Homo sapiens: one gene and its partner. The protein of the gene in region 2 purifies or fractionates together with the protein of the main gene of each other region. This does not show direct contact. Each region holds a gene or a part of one and is shown on either strand. Other genes may lie near its edges.

Region 1 (7,034 bases), on a different chromosome or scaffold from region 2:
CGGAATAAGCACGTTGGAAAATGAATGAATACAAAGTGTTATAAAGTAAAAATCTGTCTAGTCTGTGCTAAATACACGAATGCATGATAAACTGTGAGGTGTGGAGGCAGTCAGGGAGCCTGCCCTATTTGTGATTGTTTTTGAACTTCATGGTAGTAAGAGGTGTTCCTTACCATTTTTGCTTTGCAAACATTTATTCCCTGAATTAACCCACCACTATTATGGCCGCCATCATTCACTTATTCTCCAAAAATTGGGTAAATAAATACCATGTTTGTTTTTATTAACCTTTCTTAAATGTTGTATAGCTCACATTTATTTCAATATTGAATGTTAGAAGTGTTTTGGGTCTTTATTTAGAAGTTTGCTGATGTTTTTATGACTAGAAATATTGCCACAAGAACTTCACTCTTCTTTTTTTGTTTTTTTTTGTTTTTTTGTTTTGAGACAGAGTCTCACTCTGTCACCCACCCAGGCTGGAGTGCAGTGGCGCAATCTCAGCTCACTGCACCCTCCACCTCCGGGGTTCAAGCAATTCTCGTGCTTATGGGCACGCACCACCACACCTGGCTAATTTTTGTGTTTTTAGTAGAGGCAGGGTTTCACCATGGTGGCCAGGCTGGTCTCGAACTCCTGACCTCAGGTGATCTGCCTTCCTCAGCCTCTCAAAGTGCTGGGATTACAGGCATGAGCCCCGCACCTGACCAACTCTTGTTTATATCAATTAGCTGGTGGTAAAATTGGTTTTGTTATACGTCATTTCACTTACAGTTGCAGTTTCTAAGAACCTATTTTTTCCAGGCATGCTGTTAAGTGGAGACTTACTGAAGAGTGGGTAGATTGTATCTCAGTTATCTTGGTCCCATGGAGGATTAGGCTGTATCTATTCTGGTAAAGTAGAGTTAATTACTCAAACGTTTCAGGCCTCAAAAACCCTGGCTTGGCTCCATCACTTACTAGCTGATGGCCTTAGACTAACCATGCTTTGGTTTTCTTATCTGTACCATAGAGATAATATTCATACTACCCATAGAGTGGTTATGGCATTCAGTAGAAGAATGCATGAAAAGCACTGGAAGACATCTAGTAAAACTCTTGGTAATTGTTAGCTGTTCTTATATTGAATTAAAATGATTTGGTTTTGCTTTTAACTAAGCTTGCAGATAGATAATGGTTTCACTTTGGTACAACCTTTTTGTTTCTGGACTGTAAGCTGGTACAGCTGAGGTTGCTGAAGAAACCATTCAAAAAGAAACTAAATCCTGTCAGGGAATCAGAGGGGAAACCGCCGATATGACTGCCTTGCGAAAACAAAGCCCACACATCCTTCAGCACCAGAGCCTGGCCTCACTTCTCTTTGTATCTCTTCTACCCCCAGCCCCTAAAGGAGAGCTTCGCACGCTGCAGGCACTGAAATGTCTGAGGAAGATCAATTCCTTGGCTCTGTGCAGGTCTTAATACCAGCAGGCTGGCCTGTCCTCCCATACCCCAGTATCTGGCTAATCATGAAATATAAGTACTAATTCTGATAAGGATGCCCACACAAAGGACCTCAAATAGTGTGCTTTCCCAGGGTATTAGGGCTGAATGTGAGTTTTGAAAACTTCTTTCTCACATCATCTAGATCCTGCTTCCCAGTAAGTTGCCTTTCTTCCTTCTCCTTCTACAAAGCAGACTCCAATTCTCTAGTGCCAACAGAGGCAAACATTTCTTTCTTTTTTTTTTTTTTTTTTTTTTTGAGATCGAGTTTCGCTCTTGTTGCCCAGGCTGAAGCGCAATGGCGCGATCTCGGCTCACTGCAACCTCTGCCTCCCGGGTTCAAGCGATTCTCCTGCCTCAGCCTCCTGAGTAGCTGGGATTACAGGCATGTGCCACCATGCCAGGCTAATTTTGTATTTTTAGTAGAGATGGGGTTTCTCCATGTTGGTCAGGCTGGTCTCGAACTCCTGACCTCAGGTGAGCCTCCCACCTCAGCCTCCCAAAGTGCTGGGATTACAGGCGTGAACCACCACACCAGGCTGAGGCAAACGTTTCTTAATTGTGTGGCTCTCTCCATCACTTCAATAGTCAATCAATTGCCTGGGCTGAAAGGAAATCCTGTACAGGTGGAGTTGCCTGTGCAGATCCTGGGGAAATTTCCTGCAGTTTAGAATTCTTAGGTTTAGGTGACTTTGATCTTCCTCCAGTTGCTTTATTCTGTGAGGCCCTCATCTAGAATCCCCAGGGGTATCACTAAGAGGAAATCACTCCACTCTGGTGATAACTTTTTTCTTTGGTGAAGAACCTGTTGTCCCAGGGGCATTCTCCCCTGGGTTGTGCCCAGCATGGGCGCGCCACTCCTGGTTACCTGGCAGGCGTCGTGCAAGTTTGCCTGGGGCCCGCCGCTCCGAGTGTCTCCAGCACACAGCATGTTGTCGGTGACTGTTCTGTTAAGTAAATGTTGTGATGTGCAGCGGCTGGATGGGTACAGTCTGACATGAGCCTCCTTCAGCCGCTCCGAATAGAAAGGAGACACTGAAAGGGGAGAACCATCATATGGTTTTAGGGAAAGTTATTTATAAACGTTTTTGAAAGAGAAAGCCAAATTTTCCAATAATAGCTAACATTGATCAAGATTCAACATGTATTAGGTCGAATCCTATGACACTGCTGGTATTTTATCGTTTTGACCCACAAAAACAGCAGGATTCCGGGATTGAACCCACAGCCTCTCCGTAGTGGCACTGCTGATGCTTCGGACCAGGGAGGTCCCTGTTGTGGGGGATGGGGACAGTCCCGAGCCCTGCAGTGTGCAGCATCCCTGGCTGCACTCACTGAAGGCCGGCGTTAACCCTCACCCTAAACTGTAACAACCAAAAACGTCTCCAGACCTCGCCAAACGTTTCCTGGGGGACAAAATCACCCCAGCTGACATCCATTCGTTCAATATTATCTCATTTAACCCTCCTAATCTAATTAGGGAGATAGTTCTATCTCCACTTTACCAACGAGGAAACTGAGGCTGGGAGCAGTTCAAAATAAAAATCCATGTCCACGGTCACACAGCTCAGCAAGTGGGATTTGAAATCGGGTCTTTGTAACTCCAGCTTCCCAGAACCCACACGCTTAGCGACTGTACTCCACTTCCTACTCAGAACCTTCCCAACACCTGCAGCACTTCGAGGCCCTCATACTGTTGTGTCCTTTCCTGGCCTGCAGTGTCCCTGTGAGGCAGAGACAGCAGAGACGGGCCCCCACGACACAGGGAGACGGGACTGGCGTCAGTGCCTGACCCGGGGCTGGAACTTCGGTCTCCTGACCCCATTTTCCTCTGGTGGACCGCAGCCTCCCCTGCTGTCCCGCAGACAGGATGGGGCCGAGACTTCCTTCCACTTACAGGCCTCATGCTTGCCGTAGCCGGAGAGCTCACACTCCGTCCAGTCCGGCAGCTGCAGGTCCGCCGGGGGAAGGCACACAGTGCGGACCACGCTGCTCTCCTGGGCACAGCGGGACGAATCCGATTTCAGCTGCAGCAGCGCTGGGAGGGAGAAAGGAGGAGTGAGCTGGCGTGAGGGCCGCGTCCCCGGGAGGGGAGGAACACGCAGGAGGGGCAGGGGCTGGAGGAGGAGGCCCGTGTGTGTAAACATAGGTGAGTGCATGTGGGTGTGTTGTGTGATCTGTATGAACTGGAGCCGGGAATGACGAGCTCTTACCAATGTCATTGTCGTAAGTGTCATCATCGAATTCCTTATGGACAATGTATTTTTCGACTTCAAATTTCTGCTCCTCCTCGCCAGGGACCACCCGGTATGTTCTGCCCAAGATCACCGTCAGGTGGTGGGGCGGAAACCTGGTGGAGAAACAGCCTTAGAATGCTTTTTTTGCTGTGGGATTTCCCCTAAAGGGCTTGGTTTCTAGGCGTTAGAGGGTGGAAAAACCAACTGGGTTTCCGAGCCCCTACCTCTCCTGGAAGCAGTGGGCGGCAGAGAGAATCCAGCAGGAGCTGATGAGTATGCCCCCGCACAGGAACCGCTCTCCGGGCGACCTCCTGTGCTTGGCAAAGATGGCAGCCTGCCAGGGGTGGGAGGCGATGTCGGCGAAGAGCCCTCCTTTGATGCGAAACTGAGGCTGGCTGTACTGTCTCAGGCCGCAGGTGGCTGGGGAGGAAAGGACGAGGAGGCAGTCAGTCCCACAGGCCTCCTGCACGTGTGTAGGTAGAGTGAGGAGGCCATCAGCATGGCTGTAAAACCACAACTTTCACTTGGTGGGATCAGCATGCCGAATGTTGTCCATACATTCTCTTTAGTTCCCACAGCGATAAGTTTCAGGAGGCGGAGACGTTTTTGCCCAAGGTTGCAATGGCACCTGGATTAGTTCCCAAGTATGTTTGACTCCAAAACTGGGGATCTGCCATCCTTCATTCCTTCTAATGTTTTCCTACAGCCATTTCCTGGCCTAAGAAATGAAGAATTGCAGCTTCCTTCTGTGGAATGTCTGCTCATTTCTTTTCCATCTGTCCAACCTTACCCATGCTTCAAGGCCCAGGTGCAATCCTGCCTCCTCGCAAAGCTTTCCTGACGTCCCCACCTGCTCAGCTCTGAGGAGCTTAGGGACACGGACCACTGAGGACTCACACTAATGCCCTTGGGTGTGAGTTAGCTGGTGGTCTGTGTCTCATCGTCCCAGTTGGACTTGTGTTCCTTGGGGAACATTCTGGCTGATCTGTGTTCACAGGAGGTGATTAATAACCTACTCTCTGGCCATTTCCAAACTAAAGTTTCATTTTTTAGCAATATGCACCAACTTGAATCTCCTATCTCTCACCCACATCATGAGCCAGCTCCCCTGTGTGAAATAGGTCAACAGGAAACGTGGAAGATCTCACAGTGGAAGTACATGCCATTGGGGTCAGAGGGCATGAGGGCAGGCCCTAGCTTTACCTCCCGGTGCCCAGCGAGCTTGGGCAGGCCACCTGGCGTCTGGGAGACTGCTTCCTACTCAGTAAACTGGAGGTAGGAAGACCACCTCCACCACGCTGTTGGACAAATGTGGTGAAGGCACTTTATTATCTAAGGAGCCATGCATGCGAGGCCTCCTCCTCATTCCCCATTACTCTCAGCAACACCAATAGAGGCGTCTAGAGAGAGCCGGGTAGAGCCTACTGACTTCTCAGAGAGGTTGCTGTGTTCTTTTCTTTCTTCTTGCCCCTCCCCACCACCCCCATGCATGGGTCATGGACACCCGCCCACCCACCGTGGCTTCAGTCATGGAAGCCCCCTCCCCACCCAGCCTGGAAGTCTGGTAGGCACACAGTCTGCACCAGACAGCCATGAAGGCCTAGAAAGTGGCGAGGAGATGGTGAAGAAGGGAGACCAGGTGCAGGGAGGCAGCCGGGGCCCAGCCCTTACAGCAGGAGGGCACATCACAGTACTCCCACGTCAGCCTGCGGTTCTTCAGCACGTGGCACCAGGGCTTGGCATCCCCATCAGGATTCCTAAATGATAAGAGAGTTTAAGGTTTCCTTTTTATCTTCTTATTTTTTAATTTTTGTAGAGATGGGGTCTTGCCATGTTGCCCAGGCTGGTCTTGAACTCCTGGGCTCAAGCAATCCTCCTGCCTCAGCCTCCCAAAGTGCTGGGATTACAGGCATGCACCACCACACCAGGCCAGGAGTTTAAGATTTTCAATCCCATTTTCAGCCACATCACAGGCCATGTAAGAGTAGAAGGAGACTCAGTCAACCAATGAAAACCACTGAGCTGGGAGGGAGGACACCGAGTTCATCTTGACCTTGCAGCACACCCCCACCCTAGGAGAACTTCTCTTTAACTTTGTTACCCAGTCAGTAATGTAGTGTTCTAATCTCATAGGGTTGTCAGACAGAACTGTGAGCTGTCCTGTTACGGAACTCTTACAAATCATTGCAATAAAGATGTCAGGAGAACAGCTGAGGACTAAATGGTTACAGGCCAGGACCCTTAACTTGGGATTTAGGTTGGAAAACTGGTAGACCTTGCTTTTCACAATATGTGTTATTCTAGCAAGTGAAGAGGTTGGATTAGATAATATCCATGGGTGCTTCCCACGCACTGGGTCTGTCATGCAACTTGAGACATTGGATCTTCCCCCGTCTCACACCCTAATCCCACGTTCTGCCAAGACCTGAACCCCCCACCCCTGTGCTACCTACCGGCAGTAATTATGTTTGCCCAGGCCCAGTGCCTGGGCACTGGGGTTCTGTGCTGTGTAAACCTTGCCTATCAGGATCATGGAATTCCACGGGAGGCAGGAGGCACCCGACTCGGTGAGGCTGTGCGTGCCACGGTAGGCTGACCCATTCCCAAAGTAGCAGTCACTGTTTCCTAGAAGAAAAGAATTCTCAAACTGAAACAAAAACAAATTCTGAAGCACGCAAGTCAGGGCTGGGGCTTGAAGCGGAGCTGCCGGTCGAGGAAGCTGGAGGCCGCTAGCCCGGCACTGAGAAGAGTGTAACACCTCACACTTCCCCTTTTGTTGCCCAGGCTGGAGTGCAATGCGCGATCTTGGCTCACTGCAATCTCCACCTCCTGGGTTCAAGCGATTCTTCTACCTCAGCCTCCCGAGTAGGTGGGGTTACAGGCATGCGCCACCATGCTACGCTAATTTTGTATTTTTAGTTGAGACAGGGTTTCACCATGTTGGCCAGGCTGGTCTTGAACTCCTAACATCAGGTGATCTGCCCGCCTCAGCCTCCCAAAGTGCTGGGAGTACAGGTGTGAGCCAACACGCCCGGCCTGAGCCTTTTTCCCCCTCTTTGAGTCCTTTTACTTAGAGATGGCAAGGGGGTTTCATCTCCACCGGAAGTGGCTCCCTAGATTGCTATGTTGAGAGAGAGTCTGGGGACATCTTCAGGTTCAGCAGGAAGAACCACTTCCATGAGTGGGGGCTGTTTCTGAAGCTGCTTTGAAAGCCAGTAGGGGTTTCCTTGTGTTACTTAACAGGCTGCAGTGAACCAACGTGCTTCAGTGGGGCTGGGGTGGGGGTTATTTCTCGGACTGTGTCTGCCAGTGTCCTGA
Region 2 (7,034 bases):
GTTAAGAATAAGAAAAGAGGAGATGCCCCAAAGCAAGAAGCACAGCCTGTGAAGTCCGTGTCTCAGGACTCAAAGCCAGCAGACACCCTGACACGTGGGGTTTTCCCTGGCCTGGGGACATGGACTTCTGTCTTTGTCCCCAAGAGGGCTCAGCCCACGTGGAGAGGCTGCCAGGTGAGATGGCTCCTCCATAAACCAAAAAAAAAAGACAGAGGTTAAGTACCATGTCAGCTGGCCAGGGGAAGGTCCCACATGCTCCCCCAACCCCATCCTAGACTATTCTACCGTCAGCACACGTTTTCCCCTCAAATGCTGAAGGACTCTTACGCTTTTTTTTTTGTAGAGACAAGGTTCTTGCCACCTTGCCCAGGCTGCTCTCCAACGCCTGGCCTCAAGTGATCTTCCTGCCTCAGCCTCCCAAGGTGCTGAGATTACAGCCATGCACCACGCCCAGCCTAAAGGACTTTTAATTCAAATGGAAATGTCCACCTAAGAAAGGCTAATAATAAAACACTCCGTCTCCGGTAATATCCCGGAGAATCTGTTTCAGGCGCTGATCTTTATATCAGTAACTTCAACAAAGCAAAGCCACCTTTGTCTGAAGACACGCCCACTGGGGAGGTGCCTGTCTGGCCAGCCCAGGTTACACCATCTGGGGCAGAGGAGAAGTCGGTGCACATGAGTTTCACTGTGTCAGGGGATTTAATTTGAAATACTGAACTGGAGAAACCAAAGCAGGATATTCGGAGGAGAAGTCAGTGCACATGAGTTTTACTGTGTCAGGGGATTTAATCTGAAACACTGAACTGGAGAAACCAGACCAGGATATTCGGAGGAGATGGCACGAGTCAGGAGGAAGACAGGGTCTCTAGTCCTGGCTCTGGTACCCTGGGCAAATCACTGGACTCCTGATACCAGTTTCCTCTCTGTATGAGGAAAAGCATATACCAGATAATCTGGGTTCCCTTCCATCTCTAACATTCAATAATTGTTAATACCAAATGCAGAAGGAAGAGCAAAAATGTAGCTCAATTTTCAAAGCCCACAGTGAGGTCAGTAATGATATTCCATTTCTTAGTTGAAAACACTGCTGACAGCCGTGAAAGGTAAAATTCTATCTATGCCTTACATAAAAATTGCTGAGCAACAAAGAAACAATAAATCAAGGATGTCCTAGAGATTTAATTTTCTTAGCAGAAACTATGTTAGTCATTAAATAACTGAATATCCTACTCCTGATAAACACCCTTACGTCAAACAGCAAGTGGTACTTCCCATGCTTCCTTAACAAGGTAAGAATTACCTACTTCAGCAGCCACCAGCACAGCTGATGATAGAACATTAGTCCCTTAACTCCCCAAACAGGAACAAGATAAAAATATCTGTCGTCCCAACCTTGTGTAACTTTGTTCAGATAGTTCTGGCAAAGGCAAATACAACTCATGAAACATAATGAGAAAGGAGATTGTCAGAAAGGAGACAAAATGAGCACAGTTAGCAAACAATTTGATGGTCTACCCAAAAAGCAGCCAGAATCAGTAAAATACTCTTAAAACTGAAAAATAATGGAGTAACTGGGCTACTAAAAAAATAGGAAAAACAGACCCCAGTAGAAACACGTGCAAAGGACATTAACAAATTTACCCCCAAAAAAGAAAGACAATAGCTAATAATTATATTTAAAAGTTTCAACTTCAGAAAAAAATATCACTTTTTTGATATATACTATGTGCTAGGTCCACACTGAAAGACCCTTACCCTCTGAGATAGCTGCTGAGAACACCTACGTTTTATAAGCAAAGAAATCGGGCCTTAGCTCTTTAAGTACCATGTCTCCAGAGAACCCAGGGCAACAATGGCAGAATGACGGCTGGAAGCCAGGACCGCATGGCTCTGTAGTTCACTCTCTTAACACCATGGTGCACAGCCTTCCCAAAAAGCAATGGTGGAGAGTACATTAAAGATGCCTTTTCAAACCATGAACCTTGCAAATACAAAAACAATTCATGCTAATACTGACAAAGACAGGCAATCCTTCTCACGCCATGCAAGTAATACGGAGGCAGCAGGGACAGAGCTTGGCCCGTACCCACTCCCGTATTTTCCATACATCCCCCACGCCATCACACCTGCCCACCAGACCATGCAAACCAGGGAGGGAAACAAGATAAGCCATGTTCCACCCCAAATCTTACCCAAGGGAGTTAAGCCTGATGCCCACATGCATACAGGATCAGAACGACGATCCTGACCTCTTGCCTTGTTGTATTACTAAAACCCTCTCCTCAGGGGCTCATCTGCCATGCCCTGATCATGACACATCTGTGCTAACATGATGTTCCCCGGTGCCTGCCACTAGCGTGTGTAATGCTGCTGACACACCTCATGACTATCCATGTCACCCTAAAACACCAGGAACACCTGTCCCGAGGGCCAGCCCGGGAACTCCTGCCCCTGTGCCGCTGCCCTCCTGCTCCAGCATAAGCCCATTATAAAGCCTTGTCTGGGACACTTTCTCTGTCTCATGTCAATTTCCACTGCATGAGAATCTAAGAACCCACGATCAGTAACAATACTGTAAATTGGTACACCAGTATTTCCTGAGTATGATTTAGAATTATGTCAAAAATAAAAGTAAAATACAATAAAGTGAAGGAAGAAAAGAAAATGTCATGGAAACATTCATACTATCTGAATTAAAAATTCCACTTCTAGGAATTTCACTGAAGGTAAAACTCACAGGTTTTGTACATAATAAAACATTATGTACAACATTATGGGATATAAATAGGGCTAATAATAATAAAAATCACAGTAATGACATGGGAATACACAAGATTACATTAAAAAAGATATAAAACTATACATACAATTTAAATTTATCCATGTAAATTAGGAAAAAAGGTAAGTGTAGGCACAATTTACAGACAGAATAGAGGGAAATACTATACACCAAATGTTTCTAACGGTAATTTTTATGTTTTTTGTGTTTTTCTGGATTTTCACATTTTCTATAGCATATAATTTATGGAGGGGGTTGGTTAACTCTTCTTTTTATGAAATTACTATATATACATTCAGTTTAAAAATCAGGTGGTGTTAAAAGAGATGTTATAAAAGACAACAAGCTCCTTCTCAGCCCTCCCAACTCCCCAGAAGCAATCACTTCCAAACCCTTTGCTCTTTCTTCTGGTATTTACCACCATATTTCTACATAACGTGTATACTACTATTTTTGACCTAATAACTTTATCATGTTTTATTTTATGTATGTATTTATTTTTATTAGGGTAGGGGTCTCACGCTGTCGCCCAGGCTGGAATGCAGTTGCATGATCACGGCCCACTGCAGCCTCGAACTCCTGGCCTCAAGCAATCCTTTAGCGTCAGCCTCCTAAAGTGCTGGAACTACAGGCACCCGGCCAAATTCTAGACATTATCTATTGCCTTCCTAATCTAGAGGCCGAGGGCCCGGTCCCGATCCACAGGTTTGCTTTATTATCACTAAATAGCATTCGATGCTAAGCCAGGTGGTGGGATGGGAACCCATTTCCTTTTTATGTAATGCTGATTTGCCTTATATTAATAGTGCCTTTCCCCCCTTTCCTTAGTTTTCTATGTACTATGTATTTTCAAATTCTCCCCAAATGTTCTACAGGTCAGTCAAACCCTTTCAGTACTTTTTTCATATGCTTCGACACAAGGAATAATCTACCAGCTGCATTTTCCTCTCCCTCCGTCTGTCACCATGCTGCTGAGCATGCGCGACTTTCACGCCGAAGAGAAATGTTCATAGACGGGGACAAGTTTCCCTACTATAATACATGGCCAATTTATAGTTTGGCAGGCTGGTCAGACTAATTTTTTTTCTCAAACACAGCACATTGCTTACAGGGCAAAGAAATTATTTTTTCTTATTTAAGTGTTGATGACATATTTTAATATGTCTAATTTTTTAATGCTTTATGCAAACTTACAAATTGCACAAACCTTAGTAGACTTTTGAACTTCTACAAATCTGATAAATCAAGACATATAAATCTAGTAAGCTAGCCTCTCCTAAGACTTTCAAACAGTACAATGATTACAAAACTTATTTCTATACCTGTACTTATGTCTAGCAAAAGTTATTCATTAATATCACAGATTTAATTATTTTATCTTTGTTATATTTTCCTATTCCTTTCCTAAGGTAACACTAATGCTTATTTTAACAGTTTCCTATGGGGAAAATTAATCTTATGGGGTTAAATCCTAAGGGATCATCCCTTTCTGTAAAAACAGGGTGGGGCTCCCTGGTTCATGGTCTTTGTGCATCAAAGCAGTTTCTCAGCACAGGGCACACACTCTTTGATGCCAAGCATATCTGACTAGTTAGGGCAGCTTTGAGCTCCAATCCTGCCTTCACTGAGATTTTATAAGGCCTCAACCAAACACCAAATTTCAGTGTCTTGTAGCCTGATGTCCTTCCTTAAAATGAAATACGGAGTTTTCCTCTATCTGAGTTGCATAGACCAGTGTTGTATGGTATAACTTGGTCTTTTTGTTGAATGTTTAGGCCTTTAAGTTGGTTTTTACAACTACTGTGTTTGTTAGCCCAGGAAGCTATAATAACTAAACTTTTTCCATAGCAATCCTAGACACAGTGCAAACATTACTGAATTCTTTTGTGCCTTTTTAAGGCTCATCTTGTTTGCCTCATCTGAACTTATTAATGAGCTTGGGCTTTTTACAAACAATATATTTCAATTTGCTGATGTTTTTTTTTCTTCTTGTTCTAATTGGCTGGTGGGAATCTCTTTAAATTAGTTACTTTCCCTCCAAACACACTTACTTTATATGCAGGAGTCCCCAGCAGATCCGTCTGTGGTCTGTTAGGAACTGGGCCACGCAGCAGGAGGTGAGCAGCAGGTGAGCGAACATCACCGCCTGAGCTCCACCTCCTGTTAGGTCAGTGGCAGCGTTGGAGTCTTGTAGGAGAGTGAACCTACGGTGAACTGTGCACGTGGTGATCTTGGTTGCATGCTGCGTATGAGAATCGAATGCCTGATGATCTGAGGTGGAACAGTTTTATCTTGAAACCATACCCCCAACTTTATCAGTGGAAAAACTGTCTTCCACAAAACCAGTCTGGTCCCTGGTGCCAAAAAGGTTGGGGACCATTGCTTTAAAGCAACAGCAAAGTCTTACCAAACCATTTTAGATTTTTCTAGTCCAAAGACTAGATATGATAGGTGCACACCACCACGCCCAGTTCATTTTTATTTTTTGTAGAGACAGGGTCTCGCTCGGTGGCCGAGGCTGGTCCCAAACTCCCGGCCTCAAGCTATCTTTCCACGTTGGCTTCCCAAAGTGCTGGGATTATAGGCATGAGCCACCAAGCCTAGCTTGGGAAAAAAATGTAAGGCACTTGCTGATTTCCTCCAGACTGGCTCTTTGTTCTCTTTTTCTGTCAAGTACAAAACTCTTAGACTGATATCATCTGGGACTTCTCACCTTTCTCCAGGCTGTGACACACACAGAAAATGATGTTTGTATGTCACTTTGGGGCCAGGCTACTCACCCCAAAGGTGACCAGTGCAGAGCTCCAGCCACCCAGACTCCTCGAGTTGGAGGGATCTGTTAACCTGCCCAGGGCACAACACCCACACACAAGTTAGAAAGTTCTGCTCTGGAAGACTGAAACTGGACCCCTTCCTTACATACACCATGTACAAAAATCAACTCAAGATGGATTAAAGGCTTAGATGTAAAAGCCAAAACTATAAAAAACCCTGGAAGACAATCTAGGCAATACCATTCTGGACATAGGAACAGGCAAAGATTTCATGACAAAGATGCCAAATGCAATCACAACAAAAGCAAAAATTGACAAATAGGATCTAATTAAACTTAAGCACTCCTGCACAGCAAAAGAAACTATCAACAGAGTAAACAGCCAACCTACGGAATGGGAGAAAATATTCACAAACTATGCATCTGACAAAGGTCAAATATCCAGCATCTATATGGAACTTAAACAAATTTACAAGAAGAAAACAAACAACTCCATTAAAAAGAAGGCAAAGGACATGAACAGACACTTTTCAAAAGAAGACATTCATGCAGCCAACAGCCATAAGAAAAAAGGCTCAGTATCACTGATCATTAGAGAAATGCAAATCAAAACCACAATGAGATACCATCTCACGCCAGTCAGAATGGCTATTATTAAAAAGTCAAAAATTAAGAGATACTGGCAAGGTTGTGGAGAAAAGGGAACACTTACACACTGCTGGTGGGTGTGTAAAACAGTTCAACCATTGGGGAAAGCAGTGTGGCGATTCCTCAGAGCTAAAAACAGAACTACCATTCAACCCAGCAATCCCATTACTGAGTATACAACCAGAGGAGAGAGGAATAGAAATCATTCTCCCATAAAGATACACGCACGCGAATGTTCACCGCAGCACTATTCACAATAGCAAAGACATGGAATCAACCTAAATGCCCATGCATGGCAGATGGGATAAAGAAATTGTGGTACATATACACCATGGAATACTATGCAACCATAAAAAAGAATGAGATCATGTGTTTTGCAGAAACATGGATGGGGCTGGAGGCCATTATCCTTAGCAAACACACGCAGGGAACAGAAAACCAAATACCGCATGTTCTCACTTATGAGTGGAAGCTAAATGATGAGAACGTGGACACAAAGAGGGGAGCAACAAACACTGGGTCCTATCAGAGGGTGGAGGGTGAAGGGTGGGAGGAGGGAGAGGAAAAAATAACTATTGGGTACTAGGCTTAGTACCTGGGGGATGAAATAACCTGCACAACAACCTGCGACATGAGTTTACCTATGTCACAAACCTGCGTATGTATCCTGAACCTAAATAGAGGTTTAAAAGGTTAAAAAAAAAAAGAAGAAATCATATAAATGAATGTTCTCTTCTGACCTTATTCCCTCATTTACACTTTTCATCATGATATTTGATTCCATTTTGCCTTCTATACTAATTCTTTGGATACCACAATTATAGTTTATTG

Evidence for each region.
Region 1: the proteins of SERPINB6 (region 2) and PLAT purify together in Homo sapiens (affinity purification with mass spectrometry; 2 studies listed by BioGRID and IntAct, with this or other methods). This does not show direct contact.

What each region holds. Positions count from the first base shown.
Region 1 is NC_000008.11:42,176,550-42,183,583, forward strand, and holds part of PLAT (tissue-type plasminogen activator isoform 1 preproprotein), read right to left. Parts: intron 6,342-7,034; coding exon 6,170-6,341; intron 5,474-6,169; coding exon 5,388-5,473; intron 4,137-5,387; coding exon 3,941-4,136; intron 3,830-3,940; coding exon 3,693-3,829; intron 3,518-3,692; coding exon 3,377-3,517; intron 2,515-3,376; coding exon 2,348-2,514; intron 1-2,347. UniProt on the Homo sapiens protein: Converts the abundant, but inactive, zymogen plasminogen to plasmin by hydrolyzing a single Arg-Val bond in plasminogen.
Region 2 is NC_000006.12:2,961,567-2,968,600, forward strand, and holds part of SERPINB6 (serpin B6), read right to left. Parts: intron 5,025-7,034; coding exon of another isoform or gene 4,834-5,024; intron 565-4,833; exon of another isoform or gene 1-564.